Linked DNA regions of Homo sapiens. The protein of the gene in region 2 interacts with the protein of the main gene of each other region in a pairwise test. Each region holds a gene or a part of one and is shown on either strand. Other genes may lie near its edges.

What was found.
Region 1: the proteins of AGR3 (region 2) and CD46 interact in binary tests that used the Homo sapiens proteins (3 or more experiments, as listed by UniProt).

The regions. Positions count from the first base shown.
Region 1 is NC_000001.11:207,783,018-207,790,117, reverse strand, and holds part of CD46 (membrane cofactor protein isoform 3 precursor), read right to left. Parts: intron 6,827-7,100; coding exon 6,788-6,826; intron 5,048-6,787; coding exon 5,012-5,047; intron 4,500-5,011; coding exon 4,436-4,499; intron 1-4,435. UniProt on the Homo sapiens protein: Acts as a cofactor for complement factor I, a serine protease which protects autologous cells against complement-mediated injury by cleaving C3b and C4b deposited on host tissue.
Region 2 is NC_000007.14:16,858,856-16,865,027, reverse strand, and holds the end of AGR3 (anterior gradient protein 3 precursor), read left to right. Parts: intron 1-2,365; coding exon 2,366-2,418; intron 2,419-2,967; coding exon 2,968-3,044; intron 3,045-3,580; coding exon 3,581-3,644; intron 3,645-4,444; coding exon 4,445-4,528; intron 4,529-5,396; coding exon 5,397-5,446; 3' UTR 5,447-5,616; downstream 5,617-6,172. UniProt on the Homo sapiens protein: Required for calcium-mediated regulation of ciliary beat frequency and mucociliary clearance in the airway. Might be involved in the regulation of intracellular calcium in tracheal epithelial cells.

The DNA.
Region 1 (7,100 bases), on a different chromosome or scaffold from region 2:
CTTTCTCATTCTCACTGAAGGACTGGAAACATGAATTTTGTGCTAGAAGCTACTTGAACTTTGAAGTCATATAGATCATCCAGCAGATAAACAGACTGGAAATTCCTGTTTAATATGTTTATCTTTGAAGCCATTTTGCATGAAGTGATTCATGTCAAAATGTTTTCAAGGAATAACAGATTGTTGGGGAGAAATGGTACCGGTCTCTAGCACTCTTGATTTTTTTTTTTTTTTTTTTTTTTTTTTTCAAGACACAGCATCTCACTATGTTGCCCAGGCTGATCTCAAACTCCTGAGCTCAAGCCATCGGCCTGCCTCGGCCTCACAAAGTTGCTGGGATTACAGGCGTGAGCCACCAAACCCGGCCTAACACCCTCAATTTTGAGGGAATACATTGAGTATGTATCAAATCCATGTAATATTATCTAGAAATCAACTTTATGACATCATGTATTTTCAGATGTCTCTGGACTTTTACATTAAGAAGTGTCTTCCTGTGGCACATCTGTTTTCAACCTGAGGAGACATCGTTGCAAAACTTTGTATTACATGGCGTCTCATATTTCTGAGATGGATCTAATTTTGTAAGGATGCTTTCTAAACTAATTACAAAACATTTTTGTAGTTGCTCAAAAATTTTTGAAGGGTTAAATGCTCAAGAATTTAAGGGCCAACTAGAAAAACATTTAAGTTAATTTGATCCTTTTTTTGCCCCATGTCACTATATGCCCCAATTACCTGAACTGACCACTATTTTTAATAAAGTAATTGGGTCAGTCAATATTAATGTAACATTAAAAGTCAGTTTAGGTTATACAAAATAATAAATACCATTAATGGAAAAAAGGAAAAACTATTTGTCACAGGTAATAAATATATAAATTATGTAAATAACTTTCACTAACTTAGCCAAACTGTCACTTATCCAGGGATGCTTAACTAGAGTTAAAAAATAATCATGCATTTAAAAAAAACCATTACTTAAATATTTATGTAAACAAAAGGCATCTGTTGTTCAGAAGCACAGTCATGCCATGCAATACAGGACTGAAGCAGTAGCAAAGACAGGGCTGTGGCTTCCAAGACTAAAAAGTATGGTAGAAGAATTAGTAAAGAAAGGAAATGGGAAGGGAAAAGGAGGGAGCATGTGGATGGGACCTGTTTCGGACCCACTGGTATCCTATACTGTTCTCAGCTGAGAGCTATGAAACAGAAAAGTGGCAGAATACTTTAACCTTTTGCCCACTTTTTATCAAGTAATGTAAATGATGTTGGATGATCTTAAAATGACTCCTTACACTATTTTTGTATTTTGAGATGAAGGCTGCAGAAGAGTAATTACGTTCCCAAATCACCATAAATACCAGTTTACAAGAAATACATTTTGTGCCAGGCTTTAACAACAATTTGAGATTATTTGTGCCTGCTAGCCTGCTTCCAGTTACCCCCGGAAGTGGAGAAGTGCCTCCAGACATTTTATAGTCTTTATAAGAAGTTTCTAAGGCCACAACAGCCAATCTGGGGGGACAAGATTATGGACATTAAACAGTGCAAAGAAAATAATGGAAATCTTTGGGGTTTTTTTGTGTTTTTTGTTTTTGAGATGGAGTCTCACTCCGTCACCCAGGCTGGAGTGCAGTGGCGCAATCTCGCTCACTGCAAGCTCCGCCTCCGGGGTTCACGCCATTCTCCTGCCTCAGCCTCCCAGAGTAGCTGGGACTACAGGCGCCCGCCACTATTTTTTTTTTTTTTTTTTTGTATTTTTAGTAGAGACGGGGTTTCACCGTGTTAGCCAGGATGGTCTTGATCTCCTGACCTCGTGATCTGCCCGCCTCGGCCTCCCAAAGTGCTGGGATTACAGGCGTGAGCCACCAGGCCCGGCTGGAAATCTTTGTTTTTTAAGAGTTAAAGAAGGTAAGAAAAGCCAAGTACTATTTATTACCCCATAGCCTTTTTTTAAGGATACACATGGATGAGGAATCTTAAAAACTTCAATTATCTTAAATATTAGAAAAATTTGCCAATAAGCTTCATAGTGTTTCTTCAGACTTCAACAATATAGGCACATCAGTAGTGGGCAACACCCTGGTCAGTGTAGCCCAGGCACAGCAGCAGCATCAGCACTGGGAGCTCACTAGACAGGCAGGGTCTCAGGCTCCACCCCAAACCCAATGAATCAGAATCTGTACTTTAACAGATTTCCAGGTGACTAATGTGCACATTAAAGTCAGAGAAACATTCCTCTAGACTCTGAAGAAGAAAGATAAACCACCCTCACATTCAGTTCAGCTATCAAAATAACATGGAACTACAAAATAATAGATCCATAAAGAGAGCCTAGCTTTGGATTCAGCCATTACATATGCTGAATTTCCAATCGAGTATGTTCCTGTCATAAAAAGGGTAACATCTATTCTAAAAGATTCCCACGCAGTTTATATTTTAAAGTTCAAAGGCAATTAGGAGTTTCGTCTCTCACACCATTTTCTGGACTATTTTTCCTCAAGTTGTGCTACTATTTGCAGGATTAATTATGTTGCATTGGCTAAAGATATCATACCTTCCCAAAATATTTTAAAATTTTAATAATGGCAACTGTCAGTTGGACCCTATGCTGTAAAATATGGGCTTTAAAAAAAAATCACTGGACAAATTAATTTTGGAATCTCAGTTCACTACTGCTATTGAACCTTTCATTTGGGAGTGTAACAGTCAGATAACTGTTGAGCTTTAAAAGACCCATTAAGGCCGGGCGCGGTGGCTCATGCCTGTAATCCTAGCACCTTGGGAGGCCGAGGTGGGCGGATTACCTGAGGTCAGGAGTTCAAGACCAGCCTGACCAACATGGTGAAACCCCATCTCTAGTACAGGTACAACAAATTAGCCGGTGGTGGTGGTGCACGACTGTAATCCCAGCTACTCGTGAGGCTGAGGCAGAGAATCCCTTGAACCCAGGAGGCCAAGGTTGCAGCGAGCCAAGATTGCGCCATTGCACTCCAGCCTGGGTGACAGAGCAAGACTCCATCACAAAAAAGCAAAAAACAACAACAGAAAAACCATTAACTGCTAGCTAGAGAGAGTTTGATTAATACTTGTTAATGAACCTTTAAAAATTCTGATGCAGTGATATTTTAAACAAAGAAGGAAAATAAGCAGAATGCGACTTTGTTTTGTTTTCTTTAGAACTTGTTTCTACGCAAACCTTATGGATTTGTAAAAATATTCCATTGATAATATTTTGTACTCACGTTGTAGATATGTAACTTTTAGAATATACAACTGATAGATAAATCAAATATGCATATCGTGTTCCATTAATACAAGATTTAAGATTCAAGTGAAGGGATTATGGGTATTTCAAAAGATAACCAAGTAATATGAAAAAAGTTTGAGTTCCTTATGAGTAAAGCTTGTACTTTTATGACTTAGCCCAAACCTGATGATCAGTATAAAAGGAATATATATCATAAAACCATGAGTACCAAAAGTCTTAAAATTATTAGGTTTGATTTCAAAGCTATTTCTAAAACTATAGGGGAAAACAGTTTTTAAAAATCAGTAAAAATGAATGTATATTATCTTTCAGAAATTTCAAAGCACCTAATCTTAGTCTGTGTTCCAGGATTCATTCTAAGTCTTTTGTTAAACTGTAAGCTCTTTAACTAAAATTTGAGTTTGATGTTTTAAAACCCTATTTTCTTTAGAAGATATGTACTTGTACATTTTTCTTCTATTCTAAACCCACTCACTTTTTACATTTTTATATATTAAAAGACACAGTTAATTGAGGTACCTTATAGATCTAACCCCTCTCAGCAATTTTAACTTTAACCCTATCAGTTTTACTGCAATCTGGTAAATTCAGAGAACATAAGAGGGAAATCGGATAGTGTTGTTTTGAATCCCCCAGTTTAACATGTATAAATAACAACTTTAAATGAAAAGACACCAAATTGGGTATTTAAATGATATGCCTACATAGCTTCTTGCAACTAGCTAAGCTATATAGACAAGTGGAAACTTTCATTATAAAAATTCCAGTGAATACAACTGTCAAAGTCTCCACAGTGAAATACTTTAAATTTAATTTTGGCCATTAGTGCAATTTTGGAAATAGGGAATAGGGTAGAGAAGGCCTCATAGTGAGTGGTCCATGATTTGCTAAATAACTTAAACCTCAAATCCAAAAGAAATTTTTCTTAAAGTCATAATAGCTGTAGGAACTCTGCACAGATGTTTTTATGTTGCAGTGATGTTAGAAGTAGCTGAAAATATTTTTAGCAAAGAAATGCAATTGGTAGGACAAACTAATGCAGGCATTTTTTTAAAAAAAAAAAAAAGATAGCATGCAATACAGATTACAAACTGAAGCTGCACAAAAGCATGTTAAGTATAAGAAGGACCAAGAAGTTAAAAGAAACATGCTTTAATTTACCCTTTCTTCTTCCTCCTTTGAAGATATCTGTACGGGACAACACAAATTACTGCAACTCCAACAACTATAAGAAACCAGGAAACAAATGACATATAATTCTGAAAACTAATCACCAAGATTCAACATCTAGCAGAAGAAATAAATGTTGGTTACATTTCAGTGGTCAAATGTTATTTAAGCACCTACACATTTATATTCCATCCAGACTCTTTGCTATCTAAATCCAACTCCCCATAATCACTTACACAGTCCATAGTAAGTCAGAGAAAAGTCCTTGCTTAATTTAGAAAACTATCAAAAGCACATTTGGGAAGCCAACTAATATTACTGATCATCTTGAGAAAATATGTATTACTTAGGCTTTGTTACTAAGTAGATATACAGAATATAACAGAGTATAAAATCACTAACACAAGGTAGGTAGTTAAGTATATCAAATAAAAAGTCAGGTTTTCCTAAATCGGTTTAACCAATTTACAAGCTGAAAAAACTATAGAAACTGAAAAACTATTTTTAAAATGCATGTCTTCACAATAATTTTTTGACTTAAGTGGTGTCAAAATTTGTGATACTTACCTATGGCAATAACAATCACAGCAATGACCCAAACATCTGAGAAAGAAAACAGTTCCAAGATGTTGAACACATGGATCTCCAGATAGCATTTATTTCAATCAGATCATCTAAACACTTGATATGGTTTGGCTGTGTCCCCACCCAAATCTCATCTTGAATCGCAATTCCCATAATCCCCACGTGTTGTGGGAGGGACCCCATGAGAGGTAATTGAATCATGGAGGCAGTTTCCCCCATGCTATTCTCATGATAGTAAGTTCTCACGAGATCTGATGGTTTTATAAGCGGCTTCCTCCTTCACTTGGTTCTCATACTTCTCCTTCCTGCCATCATGTGAAGAAGAATGTGTTTGCTTCCCCTTCCTCCATGATTATAAGTTTCCTGGGGCCTCCTCAGCCCTGCAGAACTGAGTCAGTTAAATCTCTTTCCTTTATAAATTACCCGGTCTCAGACTGTTCCTTACAACAGCATTGAGAATGGACTAATACAAGACTACAGAGGAAAAAAAAATTTTTTATATAGTTTTAGCATGACTGCTAGGGCATCCAGGTCATTTTGATCATAGAACCCTTCTAACCAGTTTCCAGGTTAAGGGTTCCACTTGTGAAACTCTTAATGGGAACCTCATTTTTCACTGTTTTTCTCTATAGCTACCACATCAGGTTATTTAGCGGTAAAGTTATTAGAGTAATTAGAATTCACTATAGTAAAGGAAAATGATTTTTGAAAAGTATTATCCCATGAGAGTTGGTTTAGTTCAACAGTCATTCTGTCATTTCTTATTTTGGTAGACATTTAATTTGTATTTTTTCCTCCAAAAGTGATCTGTAGAGTGAGTCATAAATAAATTTCTATTATTCTATTGCCCAGATGGTATTTACAAAGTCTTCACAAACAATACTTTATCTTATCAATCCCCTTCCCATCCTCTCTACTTCCATACTCTGCCCTGCCCCAAAATTAAGACATAGTCCTAAATACCAATAGGATTCCCATAATAAATGAAACACCAGGGCACATGGATAAAAAATATACAGAGAAATTTGAGAATACATTTTTGACTATCTAGAGAACACAAAATAATCCTATAAAATCTTAATTTTTAGAACTGTTTCTGTCCCTAGTACCTTTGCTTCTAAACTGCCATTACTTTTATTAAATTGCTATAAGTCAAAGCATAAAGTGCTATGTTCAACTCTGCTCTTCTCATCTCATAAACAGTTATCAAGTGTTTAACAGTTTAAGATGGCAACAGATTTACTTGGACCACAGATTTTGGAGGTAAGGCAAATACTAAAAAACAAGCCTAAGGTGCATTATATAAAATGATTAACCATTACCAAACTAGTCTAAGAAATGAAAGGTAATAGATTTTTGTTTTTACTTATTAAGAAATCTTTATTTTTCATTGGCCTATATCACAACTGCACTTCATCTTTTTTTTTAACATGCATTGTGTAAACTGCGTAAGCCTACATCAAGTGTGTTAAATCAGCGTGTTACAGAAAAAATAAACCCAACTTAGATTGCTTTAAGGTTCATGTATATAAGATATGAATAGAAAGAAAATTTATCGACAGATTACCATCACAAAATAACAATATAATGTGGAAAGAAAATTGTGTTTTATATATTTTAACCTACATACAAACACAGCATTTAAGAAAGTTATCTTACCCTACCAAGGATCCTATGTTTGGGCACCTCATAAAAACTAATTACCTACACGTTTCTACACATACTACCACTTATATTTGTCATGATAGCTATACCAACCCAAACTGTCAAGTATTCCTTCCTCAGGTTTAGGATATCCTAGGAAAAAAGAAGAAATATAGATTAAATTAATAAAAGAAGGAAAGAATTAAATATAAAGCTTAAAATCCTTTAAACTCATAGGGTGATTTTTTTTCACCTTTGTAGAAAATCCCTTAAAATATAATTTTCCTTATAAACTATATTAATGTTTCTCAAAGTAGTATCATAAAAATTTATAAACTTACATTTAATGTCATAATCTTTCTTCTTCCTCCCCACTCACATTTTCTGTGACAACATTCTGTGGTTCAACATGCAAATTTATCTGTAC
Region 2 (6,172 bases):
CAGGATACATACTTGTTGAACCTGAGGAGGTAGTAGAAATGTCACACATGCCAGGAGACTTATTTAATTTATATCTTCACCAAAACTACATAGACTTCTTCATGGAAATTGATGATATTGTGAGAGCCAGTGAATTTCTAAGTTTTGCAGGTATCCTCAGTGGTGACTGGAATACACGCTCTTTACTCAGGAAATATAGGACATCTATAGCTACAAGAGGTGTGATACATTCCAACAAAGCCGGAGGATATGCTCATTGCCAAGGAGAAGGATCAAGTTTTTGACCCTCGCACACACCGCAGTGGTTTCTAATACATAAAAAGTATGGGGAAAATTGCCTGGCAGCAAAAGCACTTTTTCCTGACTTCTGCCTACCAGCTTTATGCCTCCAAACTCAGCTACTGCCATACCTTGCTCTAATAACCATTCCAATGAGAAATCAAGCTCAGATTTCTCTTATCCAAGATATTGGAAGGCTCCCTCTGAAGCAACACTTCGGAAGACTGAAAATGGAAGCCCTGACTGACAGGGAACATGGAATGATCGACCCTGACAGTGGAGATGAAGCCCAGCTTAACGGAGGACATTCTGCAGAGGAATCTCTGGGTGAACCCGCACAGGACACAGAGCTGGAAACCTGGTCTCTTCCTCTGAGTCAGAATAGTGCCAGTGAACTGCCTGCCAGCCAGCCTCAGCTCTTTTCAGCCCAAGGAGACGTGGAAGAAAATATAATAATAGAAGACTATGAGAGTGATGGGACATAGAAGCCAGCCTGCTAATCAGATTGCTACTTCACAGATTCATTTTTGTTTCATTCAGTGGTACTTCAGCAGAGTTAATATACTTCTCTGATGAATTACACAACAGTTTGTTAATTCTCCGTTCCTGTAGTCTTTCATCACGAAAAACTAACTCTTCTGTCACCTTGAAGTAAATAGAAGATCAAGCTTTCAAGTAATCTCTGAATGTTTTTCTGTAGGATTTATTAAATCTATGAGTGGTTTAAGGAGAGGTCAGTGTGTATAAAGTGTGTTTGAACATTATGCCAAATATCAAAATGTGAAGGACTAATTCAGAATGCAAAAACTTTATGGGGGGCTGTAAATATGAACTATACAAGAGTTTAGGATGCAATTATGGGTGTAAAGAAACTGCGTGCCTTAAAAAAAAAGCATGTTTAGCAAATAAGTGTACAAATGTAAATGTTTAGGAACAATCTAAACACAAGAGATTGGAAACAATTTAAATATCCATCTTTGGGGAGACTAATAAGATAAAATATTAATATAATAGAATATAATATAAAAGAACAGTGGCATATCTAAGATTTATATTTTAAAAGCAAAATGTAGATACTTGTGTGCTAGTATTTTTGTTTTTTAAAAAGAAATACATACACATAAATGTGAACATGCATCTGGGTATATACAATATATAAACATATTCATATAGATTTTCAGTTATATGACCTGAAAACCTCTGGGAGAAAATATAAGAAAAAGTAATACAGCATAGTTATAGAAGTTAGCAGTAGGAGGAAGAATTTTTATCTTTTTAACTTTTTATGGTTAAAATCAAAATGACCCCCCAAAAATGTATGAAATAGGGAACTCCCACTCAGGTTGTTTGTATATTCTGCAACGTGCAAGAATGAAAGGATGTGAAAATAGCCAAATATTAACAGCTTTTTTGTAAAAACTTTTTAAAAAACTAAATGTAAAAGTCTTTGACTTTCCTGAAATCTTATACTAAGTGTTCATTGGAAATGAATACATTGTTCATAATAACCCTTTATCTCTGGATACAGAATTGATTTTCTCTAACTGCACTATAGAGTACATAAGAATTACCTAATAAGTTTGTTAAGCTACAGATTCCTGAAACCACCCCTAACCCCAGAGATTCTGATTGAGTGGGTCTGGGATGAAGCCTTTGGTTTTTTGTTTGTTTGTCTGTTTGAGACAGAGTCTCGCTCTGTCACCCAGGCTGGAGTGCAGTGGCGCCATCTCGGCTCACCGCAACCTCACCTCCTGGGTTCAAGCGATTCTCATGTCTCAGCCTCCAGAGCAGCTGGGACTACAGGCTCACACCACTGTGCCCAGCTAATTTTGGAATGGAGGCTTTCCTGATTTGGGAACGGAGCCTTTGAATTTAAATTCCTAATAAGCTACCTAGTGATACTGATACTATCAGTTCTGAGGCCACAAATAGAGTAACACTGCTATTGACTATAGTGCTATGATTTGTAAATCTGAGATTACTACTGTAAGCCTTATTGAAGCTAATAAAATTTTAAATCTAACTCTACTGTATATTTTGACCCAAAGTTAATCATTTGACTTAATTCCATACTTTCTTTGTTTAGTAAGAAGCCATTAATGGTTATTCATCACCTGGAGGATTGTCAATACTCTCAAGGTAATTTTAGCCCCTGATATCTTATTATAATATATAATATTTCCAATATAAAATAGGAAAAGTGACCTGGTAATAATAGCTAAGAAGGCGCTCAGCAAATCCCATTAAAAAAAATAGACAACTGCCAGAGTACCATCATTTTACTAAGGTGCTTAAAGACCACAATGATTGTTACCAATCTACTGAATATTTCTATTATATTCCCTTGGGAATTACATATTCCTCTTCTTCCCATGAAAAGAAAGGGGTGAGCTGAGAAGGTGTAGAAACACTGAAAAAAAGTCGTTGTCTTAACCAATGAGTCAATGAGTTACATAAAATTATAAAAACTAGTGTCTTCACTGTGATTATCCTTTGATGTCTCCTTGAACAGACTGTCCCTCATTGCTTTCCAATGAGGGACAAAGTGGCAATAGGCCAATGAACTATTAATATTTACACCTGAGTTATATATGCAAACAAATGCTAAATATTAGCTTTATTTTGCTATGTTACATTAAAGGTCTCTTGATCCTTAAAACTAACTGGCAATTTTGTTTTCCCCTATAGCACTAAAGAAAGTATTTGCCCAAAATGAAGAAATACAAGAAATGGCTCAGAATAAGTTCATCATGCTAAACCTTATGGTACATAAACTTTGTGATGTTTTCTTAATACTATAATTTCATGGAAATTTTGAATCCGTTTTTTTCTTTTTTTTTTTTTTTTTTAGACAGAGTCTCGCTCTGTCACCCAGGCTGGAGTGCAGTGGCGTAATCTGGGCTCACAGCAACCTCAGCCTCCCTGGTTCAAGCAGTTCTCCTGTCTCAGCCTCCCAAGTAGCTGGGACTACAGGCACCTGCCACCATGCCCAGCTAATTTTTGTATTTTTAGTAGAGACAGGGTTTCACCTTGTTGGTTAGGCTGGTCTCAAACTCCTGACCTCAGGTGATCCACCCGCCTCAGCCTCCCAAAGTGCTGGGATTACAGGCATGAGCCACCATGCCCAGCCTCCTTTTTTTCTATTTTTAAAGCACAAAGAGCTAAATATTGGTTAATACAGAAAGTTGTATGGAATTATAAAAGGCCAAAATAGAATTTACTGACAGTCACACAAAATCATCTTGAAACTATCAAAAACAAATGAATCCAATAACATTCTTTTTTTTTCTTCTCCTGCTAGCATGAAACCACTGATAAGAATTTATCACCTGATGGGCAATATGTGCCTAGAATCATGTTTGTAGGTATGTATGTGATCTCATTTCATCAGATCTACAAAATTAGTAGAAATCAGCATTCTTGCTTTTATTTTTAAATGCTAGTTCAAGTACTATTCTTTTTAAAGAGAAGTCATTTCTAATCCAATAATATCAGCTCTTGTTAGTTCTACAATCAAAATCCACTATATCTGTAATTTGAAAATTTTAAATATTTTTTCAAAGCATGTATGCTATTAAATCTATATCCCAATGTACTTTCAACACAGTGCCCCAGACTAGATTGACAGAGACCTATGACACACTAAAAGGAGAATTCAGGTTAATTCATGAACTGACATGTATGAAAACTAATTTTGCTTATAAATTGGTTTGACATTTGTTTTAGATTATAAATTGGTTTGACATTTGTTTTAGATTAAGAAACAAAAATGATTTTAAGAACGTTTTATGGATGTAGCCAGAGGCCATTATCCTAAGCAAATGAACACAGAAACAGAAAACCAAATAGTGAATGTTCACACATATAAATATGAGCTAAACACTGGTTACACATGGACATAAAGAGAGGAAAAATAGACAATAGGAACTCCAAAACGGGGGAAGGAGGGAGGGAGCCAAAGGATGAAAAACTAACTGTTGGCTACTATGTTCACTATTAGGGTGTTGGGTTCAGCTGAAGCCCAAACTTCAGCATCACACAATATATCTGTGTAACAAACTTGTACACATAACCCCCACATATAAAATAATAATTAAGTTTTTACAAGAGTAAAGAAAAGAACATGCTAAATTATACTTTCGTGACTTGGTTTTTTCCTTGACAGACCCTTCTTTAACAGTTAGAGCTGACATAGCTGGAAGATACTCTAACAGATTGTACACATATGAGCCTCGGGATTTACCCCTATGTAAGTATTCACAAATGATCTCAAACAGTGGTCATAGCTGACCCCTGACTATTTGTTAAGGGCTAGTGAAGCCCTACATCAGTGCTTCTACACACCAGTCACTGAGGCTAGTGGTGGTGTTTAAATGCCAACTTCTAGCTCCCACCAAAATCAGAATTTTGGGGGTACCTCAGAATCTATTTTAACAGGGATGTCTAAGGGATTTTAGGATTACTAAATTCTGAGCTCACTAAAAAGAATATAGTACACATTAAAATGACACAAACTTGAGACAGTCCATTCTCCTAGTATCAAAGATCTCATGTGATTTCATCAAATGATAGTAAAATCATTTCATCTTTCTTTAATGCCTATAAGCAAGGAGGTACAGTCTTACCTAGGACTTTAATCCTTTTTTTTTCTTTTTTGTAGAGACAGGGTCTTGGTATGTTGCCCAGGCTGGTCTCAAACTCCTGGCCTCAAGTGATCCTCCCACCTCAGCCTCCCAAAATGCTGGGATTACAAGCATGACCTACCATGCCTGGCCAAATCTATTTTTTACAACATTCATTATCAACTATATTTAATAAGACAACTGTGCCTGTAAGATCTAGCAATACTAATACAAAGTGATGCATTAAAAAAAAAGAGGTACTCCTCAAAACCCCTCTGATGAAATTGTTCAACATAAAGTTGACCAACCAGCTCTCAATGGTCTAATCCCTAAATTTACATGTACACTTTTAGCATATTCTTTAATGTCATAGACGAATTCCCATGTTCAAAGCTATTAATTTAAATGGGCCAATTTCAGGTTCTAGAGTTAATAGATCATAGCATTTGTACTTTCATTTATTAATAGCATAATATATATTAACTCTTATTTCAGTGATAGAAAACATGAAGAAAGCATTAAGACTTATTCAGTCAGAGCTATAAGAGATGATGGAAAAAAGCCTTCACTTCAAAGAAGTCAAATTTCATGAAGAAAACCTCTGGCACATTGACAAATACTAAATGTGCAAGTATATAGATTTTGTAATATTACTATTTAGTTTTTTTAATGTGTTTGCAATAGTCTTATTAAAATAAATGTTTTTTAAATCTGAGACTGACAATATAGTTTTATTTCTGCCTCATCAGTAGCAAAGAAAGCCTGCCAAGAGTTATAGTGGAGACAAGAAGACCTAAATAAGAGGTGCCTATACAGTTTGTCTCTATTTCTTCACCTCTCCTTCACTCCATCAACTAATCTAATTTTATTTTTAATTTTCTAAATTTTTTTTTTTGAGATGCAGTCTCACTATGTTGCCCAGGCTGGTCTCAAACTCCTGGGCTCAAGCAATCCTCCAACCTTGGCCTGCCAGAGTGCTGAGATTATAGGCCTGAGCCACTGTTCCTGGTCTAACCACCAACTAATCTAATTTTAATTCTGTCTCCTCCCCTGTACCATACCTGCTAACCCAGGTCATAAATGATCTCCATGTTACCAAAACAAGTGGATAAATCTCTGTCCACTTGTGACTTTAACTTTTAGCTACATATTTCAGCACTAACCACTTACTTCTTTTCTTACTTTACACTTAGACATTTAAAACCTAATTATATTTTAAAAATTCAACTACATTTATTTATTTATTTGAGACAAAGTTTTGCTCTGTTGCC